Linked DNA regions of Homo sapiens. The protein of the gene in region 2 interacts with the protein of the main gene of each other region in a pairwise test. Each region holds a gene or a part of one and is shown on either strand. Other genes may lie near its edges.

What was found.
Region 1: the proteins of RNF39 (region 2) and DNAAF6 interact in binary tests that used the Homo sapiens proteins (3 or more experiments, as listed by UniProt).

Annotation. Positions count from the first base shown.
Region 1 is NC_000023.11:107,216,587-107,223,613, reverse strand, and holds part of DNAAF6 (dynein axonemal assembly factor 6), read right to left. Parts: intron 6,944-7,027; coding exon 6,871-6,943; intron 4,751-6,870; coding exon 4,645-4,750; intron 870-4,644; coding exon 773-869; intron 1-772. UniProt on the Homo sapiens protein: Plays a role in cytoplasmic pre-assembly of axonemal dynein.
Region 2 is NC_000006.12:30,072,754-30,079,926, reverse strand, and holds the start of RNF39 (RING finger protein 39), read left to right. Parts: upstream 1-4,157; 5' UTR 4,158-4,341; coding exon 4,342-4,704; intron 4,705-6,448; coding exon 6,449-6,471; intron 6,472-6,678; coding exon 6,679-6,770; intron 6,771-7,173.

The DNA of each region.
Region 1 (7,027 bases), on a different chromosome or scaffold from region 2:
AAGTTCCTGATCTCAAAAAATAAAATTTTAACACAAGAATTACTTGTTAATGTTGCTAAAATGAATCAAATTCCACACTCTGGGTTAGGCCCAGATTTTTCAACAAGGTCATTATCAGGATGAAATAAGCAAAAGTAAGGTGGTATCATTGATATTGTTGGTATTGCCACAACTGTTATACAGAAACAGTGACCTGGTAAAGGATGCTCTCCAACATTCGGTAGCGTCATTCAGATAAGAAAGCAAAGTAACATTTTAGATGTCTTTCTTAGTGTTTTTAATCAGAAGTCAGATCCCAAAATTAAGAAAATCCCTTTTTAAGTCCCACATTGTAAGCTGAGTCATTACGAGAAATACAGAAATAAGAGATAAGACAGATGCGGGGAAGGAGATACTTCATTCTGATTGCCTGTCAATTCATCATAAGTTAATAACCAATCAGTTGGCATGCATGGGACGGAACTAGGATGGAAGAAAATCCAGTCCAATCCAATTGGGAAGTTTTAATAGGGATAAAAATAGAAATTGTGTATTGTGTCATATGATTCCATTATGTTTATTTGTAAATCTCATCCAAATGTGTAAACTTAGTTTATTTTGTACAAGTTAACAATTTTAAACTGTCTATCCCATTGTTACCCTAGTACGTGAAACATAGCAACCACGATTTTTAAAGAGTTTACAACCTTGCCTACAATATTATGTAAATAATAGTCAGTCAATTTAGCTACAATGGTTGTATAGAAAATGAAGAAGGGGAGGAGAGGCTTACCACTAGTTCACTGCAACAACCTGTTGAGGAGTCCTTTTTTGACAACCCTAAAAATATATCTTCAGTTCCCACCTGCTGTCTGAATATAATCTCATACCTGAAAAAAAATCAATGATTATAGGGACTCAGATGAAAGAGCAATTTCCTGTCACAGAAAAGAAAACTAGTAACTTATGAGGATATGCTATTAGGTAAAATAAAAGGACTAAACAAATAAAGTGCTTGCAGGTCTTCAGGCATATAATAGAACATAAAGGAAAAGAAGTCTAGAAATGTGGTCAAAATAAACACTGAAAGGCAGGATTGTTATTATTTTCTAAAATAAAGCTTTAACTGTTTCAGAGCTAGACAAATAAAATAGATTGAGGGAACTTGTAATAAGATTCTAATAAGATTAAAAGCAGAAGAAAAAAAAGGAAAGTCTGTTCCTGAAAAACAATAGCTCAGAAAAATACTGAGTCCATAACCTAGGGATTGATAGAAACCTTCCTCTGCCAAGTTTAAACCACAGAGCAGAGGAGAAAATTCAGGTTTAGTACTGTTTCTGTCATTAACTGTGGACCTTGGTCAAGTCACAAACTCATGGGGTCTCAGTTTCTACATTTGTATGATTTATGGGAGGGAGGGGTGAGTTTGAACTGAATGATCTCCACGGCTAAAATTCTACAATAGAAACACTGGTAATGTAGTCAGCACAGCTACACCATAGTGCTTAGAATCTAGTCTTACAGAATTCTGAGTGTAATGAAAGGTTTTCCTGATATTTCACCCCACACATGACAATTCACAAATCATTCCTCCCTCCAAATTTGGGCCTCCAGGAATACAATGGTTTATAGAAGCACCCACCACAAGGTACCCCATCTCTTCAGATAGAATGAAACAAATATTTACAAATTATTATTATTATTATTATTATTATTATTATTATGCTTAATGCTACCTTAATGAAGAAATTGTAGATCTCTGGATAGTAAGACTAAAGGACTTGATTGAACTTCTGACCATTTGCCAATAGGAATGCCCAAAAATAAAAAAGGGATTTCTCTGAGTTTGAACATGGCTAACAATAAGCAGCTATTTGCTATGGGGCACTTTTCTCTTAATAGGCTATAACATCTACCAATTATTTATGAAGGTGAAGCCAGGTTAAAACAAACAGAGGATTGATCTATATGTTCATTGCTCCTAATGGATTTGCTCAAGCTCCTGCTCTTATCCTGAGCTCCAGACGCAATTTTCCAACTGTCTACTACAAAGGTTTGCCTGGATGTCCCAAAGACAACTCAAAGTGTACATATCAAAAACCAGCTAGTCATGGTGGCTCTCAACTGTAATCTAGTGCTTAGGGAGGCTGAGGCAGGAAGATTGCTTGAGTCCAGGAGTTTGAGACCAGCCTGGGCAGCACGGTTAGACGCAGTCTTCACAAAAATAAAGTGTGCACCTGTAGTCCCAGCTACTTGGGAGAGTAAGGTGGGAGAATTGCTTGAGCCCGGGAGGTTGAGGCTGCAGTGAACAATGGGCGGGGCCGGGGGGGCGGTGGTTGGCGAAGAAAAAAAACAAATTTGGTTGGGCACTGTGGCTCAGGCCTGTAATCCCAGCACTTTGGGAGGCTGAGGCAGGTGGACTGCTTGAGGCCAGGAGTTCAGGACCAGCCTGGCCAACTTGGTGAAACCTCGTCTCTACAAAAAACACAAAAAACATTAGCCAGGCCTGGTGGCATGCACCTGTAGTCTCAGCTACTTGTGAGGCTGAGGCAGGAGAATCGCTTGAACCCGGAAGGCAGAGGTTGCAGTGAGCCGAGATCACACCACTGCACTCCAGCCTGAGCGACAGAGCAAGACTCTGTCTCAGAAAAAAGGAAGAAAGAAAGAAAGAAAGAAAAAGAAAGAAAGAAAGAAAGAAAGAAAGAAAGAAAGAAAGAAAGAAAGAAAGAAAGGGAGAAAGAAAGAAAACAAAAACAAACTCACTGCTTCTTCTTAACCTATAATTCCTATCAAAGTTAATGGCATTATCATTTCCTCAGTCACCCAAGCTAATAACTTCAGCATCATCTTTGACGCTCTCCTCTCATCCATTTTATCTAACCAAATACCAACTCTTCATCCAAAACTCACTCAAATAAAGACCCTCATACTTCTCCCCAAGGCCAGTGCCTTAGCTCAGCTCCTTGTTATTCTTTTACTTGGCCACTTGTGATTCTTCTTTTTTGAACTGCCTGTTCATGTTCTTTACCTATTTTCCTCTGCATCCACTGAGAAATGTTGAAATGTATTTTCATAAGGTAGAAGATGAAGATTTTTAAAATCTTATAAAGCAATTTTCCTCATAATAACCTGAAGTTATTATTCATTTAAAGCTTTCATGGATGTTCTATCTACCTAACATCAAACATCAGGATGAAAAGGGAAAAATTACTCAAATTTGAAGTTTGCTGCATATGGATATTTGACATTTGTTAGACAATATGACAAATAAGTGACTTAATTATTACTTTTCATATGATACGTGGACACTATATAAACATAACTTCAAATTTACTCTCTTCGTTCTCTAAGAAATGTTTTAAAATCTCCTTTGATTTTTTATGAGGTTTATGGTCTTGACATTGTTTATTTGAAAGCTGGATACTTCTTTCTAGTTAATTGTCTGCAGTCTCCCACTGCTTCTGTTTTCAGAACTTATGTAGAAGGCAGAAGCATGGAGTTTTTGTTTATTTGCTTGTTTTATACTGGACAATTTTGGCTGGGCGCAGTGGCTCATGCCTGTAATCTTAGCACTTTGGGAGGCTGAGGCGGGCGGATTGCCTGAGGTCAGGAGTTCCAGACCAGCCTGGCCAACATGGTGAAACCCCGTCTCTACTAAAAATACAAAAATTAGCTGGGCGTGGTGGCAGGTGCCTGTAGTTCCAGCTACATGGGAGGCTGAGGCAGGAGAATTGCTTGAACCCAGGAGGGGCGCAGGTTGCAGTGAGCAGAGATTGTGCCACTGCACTCCAGCCTGGGCGACAGAGCAAGACTCTGTCTAAAAAAAAAAAAAAATACTGGATAGTTTTGTATTCAGTATTAGAAAAGTTGTCAGATCACTTGCCATAGAAGTCTTTAAGAATTTATATAGTACATTATAATTTAGTAAGTGTTGGCTTTATTTTTCCTGCTATTCTAAATAGTCAATCCAAATTTTATTTCAAAATACACATATGTAAAGCTTAGTCTATTTGACCAATAATTTAATCTATGTATATAAATATATTTTAAGGTTCTTAAAAGTATGAGTGCTTTTAAAATCAGAATAAAAGGCTTTTTATAATAATTCTAAATTTCATATTTACAACTTGATTGTATTGAAAAGGCTACAAAGCAAGTCTTGAACCCTGCTTGCAAAATACACTGAACACTAAATATAATCTTAGAATATCTAGTAAACAAGTCTGGGTAATAATTGATAATTGGAGAGAGAACATAGCCTTTTACCGAAATTGTGGAACATTGAGTAATTAAAAGCAAGTGCTTGACAAATAAACATGGCATTGTAATTTAGTTTGTATGAATGCTTGCAATTTAATGGGCTGGCTTTCTCCAACTGCTAGTTCCACATTATACAACAAATTGACATTAAATATAAATTTATAATGGAAATGACTATATTTTTCATTTTTGCTAGATAGTAACTGAAAGGAAGGTGTTATGCTTTATTATTTGTTTCTGCTCTAGAAGGAAAAAAATAATCAATTACACATGCCTTCCGTGTGTCACTGTAGTTTTATCTTTTATGTGGTATGTTACTTTATGAATCTTGTAAAAAGTAAAATGTTATCAGATGACACAGCTAACTTAAACTCCTAAAGACATTCCTGGCTTCATTTGACTTACTCTGGGATTTCTCTAACATCCCACATATCATCATATTCTGCTCCTTCTGGAATCTCTTCTGAATTCCAGATGTCCTCATTATTTTCCTCGCTGGTTTCAGGGATGACTGTGAAGAAAGGGAAGATAAAGCTGAAGCTCATGCTTTTTTCCTTCTCTAAATTGCTCCTGTTCTTCTTCACACTCAGTTTGGGTTCATTGAAATAAAACATTATTTGTAATCGCTAGCTTTTTTTTTTGATCAAAACAAACTAAATTAGTAACTACTGACTAAATGTTTCTATCAATACAGAACCAATACATTGTAGAATTTTAATAACAACTGTAGAGAATTTGGCAAAAACATAAACAAAAAGAAGAAAATAATCTACAATCCAACTGCCTGGAGATAATCAATGTTAGTATTCTGTTGTGTATCATTCCAGTCTCTCTCTCTCTCTCTCTCCATATACATATGCAAAGAAATATTACACATTTTTCCAGAAACATAAATAGGATTATATTTAAAAATATTTTTATATAAAAGAAAAAATTACAACTACAATCAATCTGATGTGGAGAGAAATGTCTTATCTTGCATTGTTTTTACTATATAAAAACGCTTTGATATCTTTTCCATGCAAGCATGACATAATTCTCAATAATATCAATTAAAGAAACTGAAAGCAGTGGATACAATGATCATTTTTTAGTCCAGCATTTTCCTCATGCAGAGCTGAGCATGAGGTTGGGTTTCTGCATGTCATCTTTAAATGTTTAAAAATGGATAGGCTCCAGTAGGCATGCAAAAACCCAGCTCACATTTGTTTTAACTATTGTAGCATCCGGTGGAGACCTGCATTAGGTGCAGAGCACTGCTTTGAGTCATTTTAAGCATTCCCAGAAATGCACCCGATTGTTAGGTTTTCAATTCTGGCAATTCTTTTGAAATGATCAGCTTCTATCTAGCACGGGCTTTGTAAAGCCTAACTACAGATTTATATATAACATTTTACATATGAATCATTGCCTTCAGAATTTAAAGATTATTAGACCTACATTATCAGAAATACAGGCAGCACAGAAATACATGAAATGTGAATTAGACTGCCATGGAGCGAATATCTCTTGGGTAAGGCAAATAGCCTCTTGAGTATGTATAGCAATAATAACTGAAATTTTAAAACCATCCTTAGACCTCATTTTAGCCATTATTTTAAACATTTGTCCAGATTAATCTTTTGCAATTAACTAAATTGATGAATGAAATTCACTTCCTCTCCCTTCCTATCCTCTGGTTAATGGTGATCATGACCAACAGAATTAGAGCCTTTTATATTTTTAAAGATTTGTAAAATGTTCAACTCTGTAAAAATGTATAGCTCAAAATGCTGGGGAAATGTAAAAATATTATTTAGCCTTATTTATTGGACTTTTTTTTATAAGTAAACTCAAAGATGTTAATGTATAAGCCTCTTAATGTAAGATAAAATTGTGTAGTTATTTGTTTTATTGTCTTCTCCAAAAGTCTATTAGCTCAATCAGAACAGGGACTTTTTCTGTTTTGATCTGCATTGTAGTATCAGAGATGGTCATACTGCCTGATACAATAGGTTCTCAATAAATATTTATTAAACAATTCAATGAATGAATTCCATGAAATTGCTAGAATATAGGAAGGTAGAAGGTAAAGAAGCTAAGCATCTTGGTAAATAGACCTTAAAAAATAAAAAATGATCTAACCACACGTGACTTTCTTGGTCTTCTATCTCAGAAAATATGCAAGGAATGTGGATAATTCAAGGCAAATATATTTCCATTATTAGAAAAACTATTTACCTGCAGTGGTAGAGTAAAAACAGCATCTTTATATGTAAATGGCTATTCATCATTTCCATGATTATTTTAGTTCATCTTTTTTCTATTTAAAAATTATTTATTCATTTCTCCATTTTTAATGAACAAATAAAAATTGTATATATTTATGATATACCATATGATGTTCTGAAATATGTATACACAGTGGATGACTAACTCAAGCTGATTAACATATGGATTACCTCACCTACTTATCATTTACTTGTGATGAGAATACTTAAAATCTACTATCTTAGCAATTTCCAAGTATACAATACATTGTTATTTAGTTCATCTTAATAAATACTAGTATTAGTACTTATTACTCTCCCTATAATTTCTCTACCAAGGAAAAGATTATATTGATCTATATTGCTTTGTTAAATAACTTACCTTTGAGCTCTTCTATTTGGGGTGGTCCAATATTCCCAGGACCCATGGCTCCAATAGTAGATAAACCATTTGTCTGAGGGAGGAGAAAAAGTTCAATATTCTGTAATTAATACTTGTATAACCTATATGACTAGTGATACTTTAAATTTGATAGGAT
Region 2 (7,173 bases):
AAAATGAGTCATTATAGAAACAATCAAGATTGAAGAAAATCTTTGGGAAGGGCATAGTGAGTGGGAATTGAGAAAGAATTATGGTCTCCTTCATTTTGATTTCTTACCTCCTAGCCCTTCTTTTCCCAATCCAGTTTTCTCCCCAGAGATGCTTCACATTCTTTGTTCAGGCCTTTTCACTTCTCTTCCAGTCAACACAACCTTCACTTCTTTTACAGGTCACCTCCTCCTGGAAGACTTCCTGAAATGATTCCCACTTGTCCTTCAATCTGTCAACAGAATCCTCCCTCACTCTTCCCCCGTCACTGCACCTTTAAAATTTGGTAATGACAGATTTAGGTTGATGATGGATACACTTTATCTGCCTTCTTACACACCCTAATTCAGTAATGCTAAATTTTGTTGATGATGGATACACTTTACCTGCCTTATCACACTTCCTAAGGGCAGGGACCATGACTGTCCTGTGATCAGTCTCCCAAACTCCTCTATCATACTTATCTCTCCCTCTGGAAAGCTTCTAAAGACTAGTGGGGCTTTTAAAAGCATGAGGATGTTGCTAATATGGAGGAGAGAGACTGAAGGATAAATGAAAGGATAGAAGAAAAAAATGAAGAGAAGGAAAAGAAGGGATGGGTCAAGGCCTGTCCCACCTCTGACATTCCCTAGTGCCATGCATGGGTATCAAGCTGTCACACTCCACAACACCACAAGTAGGAATCCTGGAAGGAGTTGGAAAGGGGTGGGAACAGTTATTTAGGAGACACCTACATTAAGGAAGGAAGATGTGGATCCTAGCAGAGAGACAGGATCCCGTCATGGTCAACTGGATCAAGCCAAGCCAAGCTGACACACGTAAAATCACATCCACCCTTCTGGCTCTCTGGAAATAGAATGAACTCAGTGGTGATTAGAGCATCAAGTATAGAGTTGTTAGGGATTCTGGAAAGGGAGGGAGAAGGTCTTGAGAAGTGAGATGTTTCCAGGCAGAGTCTGTCTCCAAATGCCTTTTCCCTTACTGGTGTCCTGGAACCATTAGGTATGAACTCATTGTAACCTGGACGTAAAGGTTGAGCTGATGCTTTGTTAGCAGGAATCCTCACCATCTGGTTATGGAAGGCAAATGACAACTAGTCATGAACTTCCTAGCCAGACTGAGCACCATATGTCTTATAACACCTGAGCGTTTCCCAGCACTATGCCTGGCATCTGCCAGTGAGGCATGACTATTGGTTGAGAAGGATAAGAAGGTCTAAGCAGAGTCAATCAAATGACCCTCTCAGGTTGTCCAATCAGTGTAATGAGCAATTCAACAACTGGACCTAAGTTTATTAAGGCTGACTGTGTGCCAGGTGCTATTCTAGGTGCAGGGAAAGCAGCAGCAAACATGAAGGTTAGGTCCCTGTTCACTCACCTTCTATTGGACAGAGACACATCAAAAGTCCATAAATAGATCACTGCAGACAGTAATAAATAGCATGAAGATAATAAATATGGGTAAAGAGATAGTGAATACCTTTGAGAAAGACCACTTGAGATACAAGTGGTAAAAGAAGTCCTCTCTGAATGTTACCTTTGGGTTGAGACATGAGTGAGAAAATGGAGAAAGCCATGTGAAGCTCTGGAGGAGCAGGGGCCCAGGCAGAGGGAACAGTGAGTGCAAAGGCGGTGCAGCCGCACCAGCAGTGGCTCGGGGAACGAGAAGTAGAAGGCACTGCAGCCAGAGCACAAGGAGCAAAATGGAGTGACCAGCCCACATGAACAGCCGTCATTCAAGACCATGGTTCTCCTGTTAGCTAAACACTGCAACCATCTGGAAAGCTTTTAAAAGTACTGACACCTGGGACCCACCCCCAGGGTGTCCGTTTAATTGGTCTGAGGTGTCACTTGGGCATCAGGAGTTTTAAAGTTTCCCAGATAATTCTAATGTGCAACTGAAGCTGTTAACCGCTGACAAGCCCATGAGGGCCATAGCAAGGCACTTGGATTGGTGACAATTGAGGTTCTTGAGGAGTCTCAGAGACATTTCTCCAGTACTTCAAGCCCAGATCCAAAAAGATCCTGAGAGGCCTTGGAGTTGGGGATAAGCCAGGACAATGAAGGAAAAGAGATAACATGAGACTGAAAAGAAGGTCAAGAGAGGCAGAGACATCCAGAAAATATGACAAACTGGAAGGTGCAACAACACAGAAGTGCAAACAGACTCAGAGAGTCAGAGACTGGAGGAGAAAAGGCAATCTTGTGTATTAGTTTCCTATTGATACTGTAACAAATTACCACAAACTTAGGAGCTTGAAACAATACACATTTGTTACTTTATTATTCTGTAGTTCAGAGTCTGAAATGGGTCTTACTGGGCAAAAATTAAGGTGTCAGCAGTGCTAGGTTCCTTCTGAATGGTCTGCTAGAGAATCCATTCCCTCGTCTTTTGCAGCTTCCAGAGGTTACCCACTTCCTTAGCTTGTGGCTTCCTGCCTCAGTCTCCAAAGCCAGCAATGTCAGGCCGATCACTTCTCATGCTGCTATCTCTCTATGCTACCTATCAGAGCATAGAAGTGCATCTTTTACAAAATAGATTTCAGTCACAACTGTAGTCTTATGCTTGGGTATCTGTGTGTTTTATGAGCACTGAGCCGGGAGGGTTGTTCCAAGATGAATGTACGTGTGTTTGTTTGTGTAGGTTTGTTTATCAGGGTGTCATATTTGAGTGTCTCCCCGATAAGTATGGGGGAGGCAGAAGAAGAGTGCCTGGAGGGGGTGCCTAATAAAGTCCTGCTGCTCCATAAAGACTTACTGCTGTTATACTGTTATTCTTATTAATAATAAAACTGATGATAGAGTATCTGTCTCTTTGCCTGTTTTCTTTGAGCATGTCCGTCTGTTCCTAAATAATACTGGACATTTATCCCAGTGATATTCAATGCATATGAGGCTATTCATACACATTATATTTAGCTGTGATGTTTGTATTACATGAATGCTTCTGTCTGCAAGTTTGTGCACATTTGGGCATTTGGACACTGATGGATGCAGACACATGTTATATAACAGTGTGGGTGATCATAGTTGTAGACATCTGGATGTTTACTTATGCACAAACCCCCATGAGTATCCAGTTAGCTAGGCCTGGCATTGGAAGGGTAGAGAAGCTAGGAAGAGGAGGGAGCAGGGAGGAAGAGGAGAGGTGGGGAGAGGAGCAGGTAAGGAGAAAAAGAGAGAATGGAGGTGAGGAATGAAGGCACAAAGGAACACCAGAAAAAAATCAGGAAGCAGGAGGGGGTCCCAGGGATCTGCAACTGAAAAAGGCAGGGTTGACTCACAGCAAGAACACAAGTCAGAAGACCAGGGTAGGGCTCCACTTCTGGTCATTCCCTTGCTATGTGACCTTGGCTATTCCAGTTCTCTGGGCCTCTGTGAACTACCAGAGTTGAAATAGATAATACCGGGTACATTCCAAAGAAGGAAGGAAAGAGAAAACTGGTAATAAAATCACACACGGGGAAAAACAGAGAGAAAGAACCAGAAAGAGAGACTTACGAAGAAAGTAAGGAGAGGCCCTGGGAGCTGGCCAGAGGTAGAGCTGAAAGAGCTCTGCCCCGACTCCCTGAGGCCGAAGTGTGGGCGCCTGCTCCCCACCCCTTACCCCAGAGCTGCAGAATGCCCTTAAGCCCTTAATAGGTAAGGAAGGAAGATGGAAAGGCGAGAGGCACCAGGAATGAAAACCACACATCAACACTCAGAGGCTTGCCAAAGCCACACAAACCAGGATCTGTGCTTCCGGCCCCCAGCCCCCAGATGTAGGTGTGCCAGCCACCTGGAATGACTCGCACCTTGGCAATGTGGGCGCACATGCCAAGAGTGAGCCTGGGCACCCGGCCCATGCGCGTACCACAGGCGGAGGGGAAGGTAAAATTGGGGCTCTTCGGGGGGTCACAGGGGGCTACCCTCCCCACACAGGGCTACCCCGCCCCAGAGCGCCCTCTAGTGACCGCCTCCTAGGCTCTGGGAACCAGGTGTGCTATTCTCCCCTCCCTGCTCCCCCAAACCTTACCCGGGAAGCAGGAGAACCAGATGAGGCGTTACGCAAGGCCTGGTGTTTACCTCCCGTGGGAGCCTCCTCCCTCCCTATAAAGCCTGATGTGGTGGAGAGATTTGACGAGACTGAGACTCTGGTTGAAGAGAGAGGCAATCCCAGGAGAGGGGCGGAAAGCGGCAAAAGTTAATGCGGGAGTCGGAGAGAAGGGCATCTACACAGCAAGCAGCAGGGGCGGCCCGCCATCTGCGCGCTCGAAGGCGGTCACGGTGGTCGCGGAAGGGGCGGCGTCCAGATCCTGGCTTTCCATGGATGCGCCCGAGCTGGGCCCGGGGCTGGTGGAGCGTCTGGAGCAGCTGGCGACGTGTCCTCTGTGCGGGGGCTCCTTCGAGGACCCGGTGCTTCTGGCGTGCGAGCACAGCTTCTGCCGCGCGTGTCTGGCCCGCCGCTGGGGGACTCCGCCGGCGACCGGCACCGAGGCTTCCCCCACCGCCTGTCCCTGCTGCGGCCTGCCGTGTCCCCGCCGCAGCCTGAGGTCTAATGTGCGGCTGGCGGTGGAGGTGCGAATCAGCCGCGAGCTGCGAGAGAAGCTGGCTGAGCCTGGGGCCCGTGCGGGGAGACGCCGAGGGGGGCGCATCCCCACCATGGGCTGCCTGGACCTGCCCGGAGAGGTGAGGCTGGGCGCGCGTCGCGGAGTTGTTGGTGGAAGCGGGAGGTTCCCGGGGAAGCCGGGAATGGCACGTCTGGAGCCGGAGGCCCTGTGGAAGTTTAGGCAAAGGATGGGGTGGGGAGAGAAAAGCAAAGGATGAGGGGGCGAGGACCCTGGGTCCTCAAGGTGAGAGGCGCCCGGAAGGACGATGGATGGAGTTGACACTTGGTCCACAGGGGAGGAGGCTGGACCGATGCCTGAGCCTTGTGAGAGGGGCTGGAGAGAAGAGACTGGGGAGGCAGAGAAGGGGTACCGGATAGAACGCGGAGAGCCCTGGAGTCGCCGCGAAGGGCATGGGAACTGCAGAAGTTTTGGCAGGGCAGCCGCAGGCGCCCGGGAGGAGGAGAGCTGGCGGAGGGGAGGGAGCGGCGGGCGGAAGGGAGAGCCGACCCAGCTGAGGGTGAGGAGGGGTCCTGGGAGGATGGTGGGCGAGGGCAGAACCTGCTTAGAGGAGCGGGAGCAGGAGGCTGGGCTGGTGGGTTGGGGGCGGAGAAAAAGCTGGGGAGGAGGGGACTGACAAGAGGATGGAGGAAGGGAGCAAGGGGTTGGGGCATATCCAAACCTCCCCGTAGCGTCGTGGGGGTTGGTCTCGGACTCTGGCTCAAGCTAAGCCCTGTGTTGTTTGTTATTGTTATTTCGGCTCCTCCCAAGGCCCCAGGCAGGAGCGGCCAGGGGTGGAGGCGAGGTGCGGGAGAACAGCCGCTGGGGCCTCTGGCTCCTCTCCACATCCCAGTCTTACCACCCATCTACCCCCCGCGCCTCTCCTGGGCCCCGGCTCCTTGGCCACTAACCAGCCCATTCCCTTGCCCGACCGACCCCTGGGCGTCTGGGACTCCTGACTGGCTTCTTCCCAGCAGCCAAGCTGGTCTTGGGTCTTGCTTCTGCCCTTTGAAGTCTTCATAGACCTAATTAGTCTGAAAGTAATTGGCACAATTATGCAAATTGTTTCTCTCTCCCCCGCTCCACCATATCGGCCTGCTCCAGCCATCAGCACTAGACAGTGAAGTGGAGGGGTCGGTATCCCAGTGTTTGGAGGGGAGCATCCAGTGCCCTCTCCTGGCTCCCATAGTACTCTGTGGATCTGCTGGGCCTTTTGGGACACATTCAAGTCTAGCTGCCTCCCTGGCCAGGGTCCAGAGACACAAAGCAAAGGGCCCAATAAATGCCACTGGGCTTTTATTGCAAGAGGGGAAGCAGCTTTATTGTAAGGCTTTTATATACCAACTCTTAGCCCGAGGGCTCTGGGTGTGTGTTTGGTCTGTGTGATGGAGGGAGGAAGGGACAGATGTTTTTCTGGGATGCACTGGGGAAGGTAGATAAGGATGGGGCCGCTGAAAGAGACAGAGAATGGGACTGAGGAGGCAGCAAGGAAGGCAAGGGCTCTGAGGACAAGAAACAGTCACGGACGAGCCTGGGAAAAGAGAATTGAGAACCCTTGGGGAGTGGAAAGGGGGAGGACAGTGGGGATGGAGTTAGGAGGATGAGGGAAAAGTGATGGGGTGAGAGGAAGGAGGGATCATGAAAGGTGAAGGAGGAGAATGAGAGGGAAAGGAGCACAGTGTGTAAAGAGGTGAGATCACTCTGAAAGGTGAGGAGGGACACTGCTAACTCAGACAGAACTCACCTGAGGAGGGGAGAGATAGGGAAGGATGCCCCAGGGAATGAAGCCCAGAGCTCACATCCATGTTTGTTTCTGCCCATCCTAGGATATGAGGAAGACATGGAGACGGTGAGTTCCACTTTTCTGTTCCCTCCTTTTCTCACCAGCTGCCATAGCCATCACGTTCTCACTGGGCCCACACCTTTGTTCCCATTAATAGGCAGGTTTTCTGGGGTATAGTCTCATCCCTTCTTCCTCCAGAGATGTGAGTGGGGTATGCGTGGGGGCATTAGGATCAGAGGGCTGATTTCCTGACCCTTCCCCTCATCTGTGTAGATTTGAAGTCCCAACATCCAAGTCATCTAATTCAGAGGATGATCTCCCTGAAGATTATCCAGTGGTCAAAAAAATGCTTCATAGACTGACAGGTAAGGAAAGAAGAAGGGAGGGAAGGGAATTGAATGAAAGTCTGTGTTAGATTTTCTTCCTTTTAGCCCTAAAAAGTGATCAGGTCCTTTTTGATGTCTGCATTAGTTTCCTAGTACTGCTCTAATGAAGCACCGCAAAGTAGGTGGCTGAAACAACAGACATTTATCTCAAAGTTCAGGAGGTAGAAGTCTGAAATCAAGGTGTCAGCAGTGTTGGTTCCTTCTGACGGCCATGAGACAGAATCTGTTCCATGCCTGTCTCCTAGCCTCTGGTAGCCTCACATGTTCTTTGGGTGATAGGTCTGCACATTTTCTTTTGTATGCATTTGTCTCTGTGTCCAAATTTCCTCTTTTTGTAAGTCAGCAATCTGGATTAGAGCCCACCCTAATGACCTTCATTTTA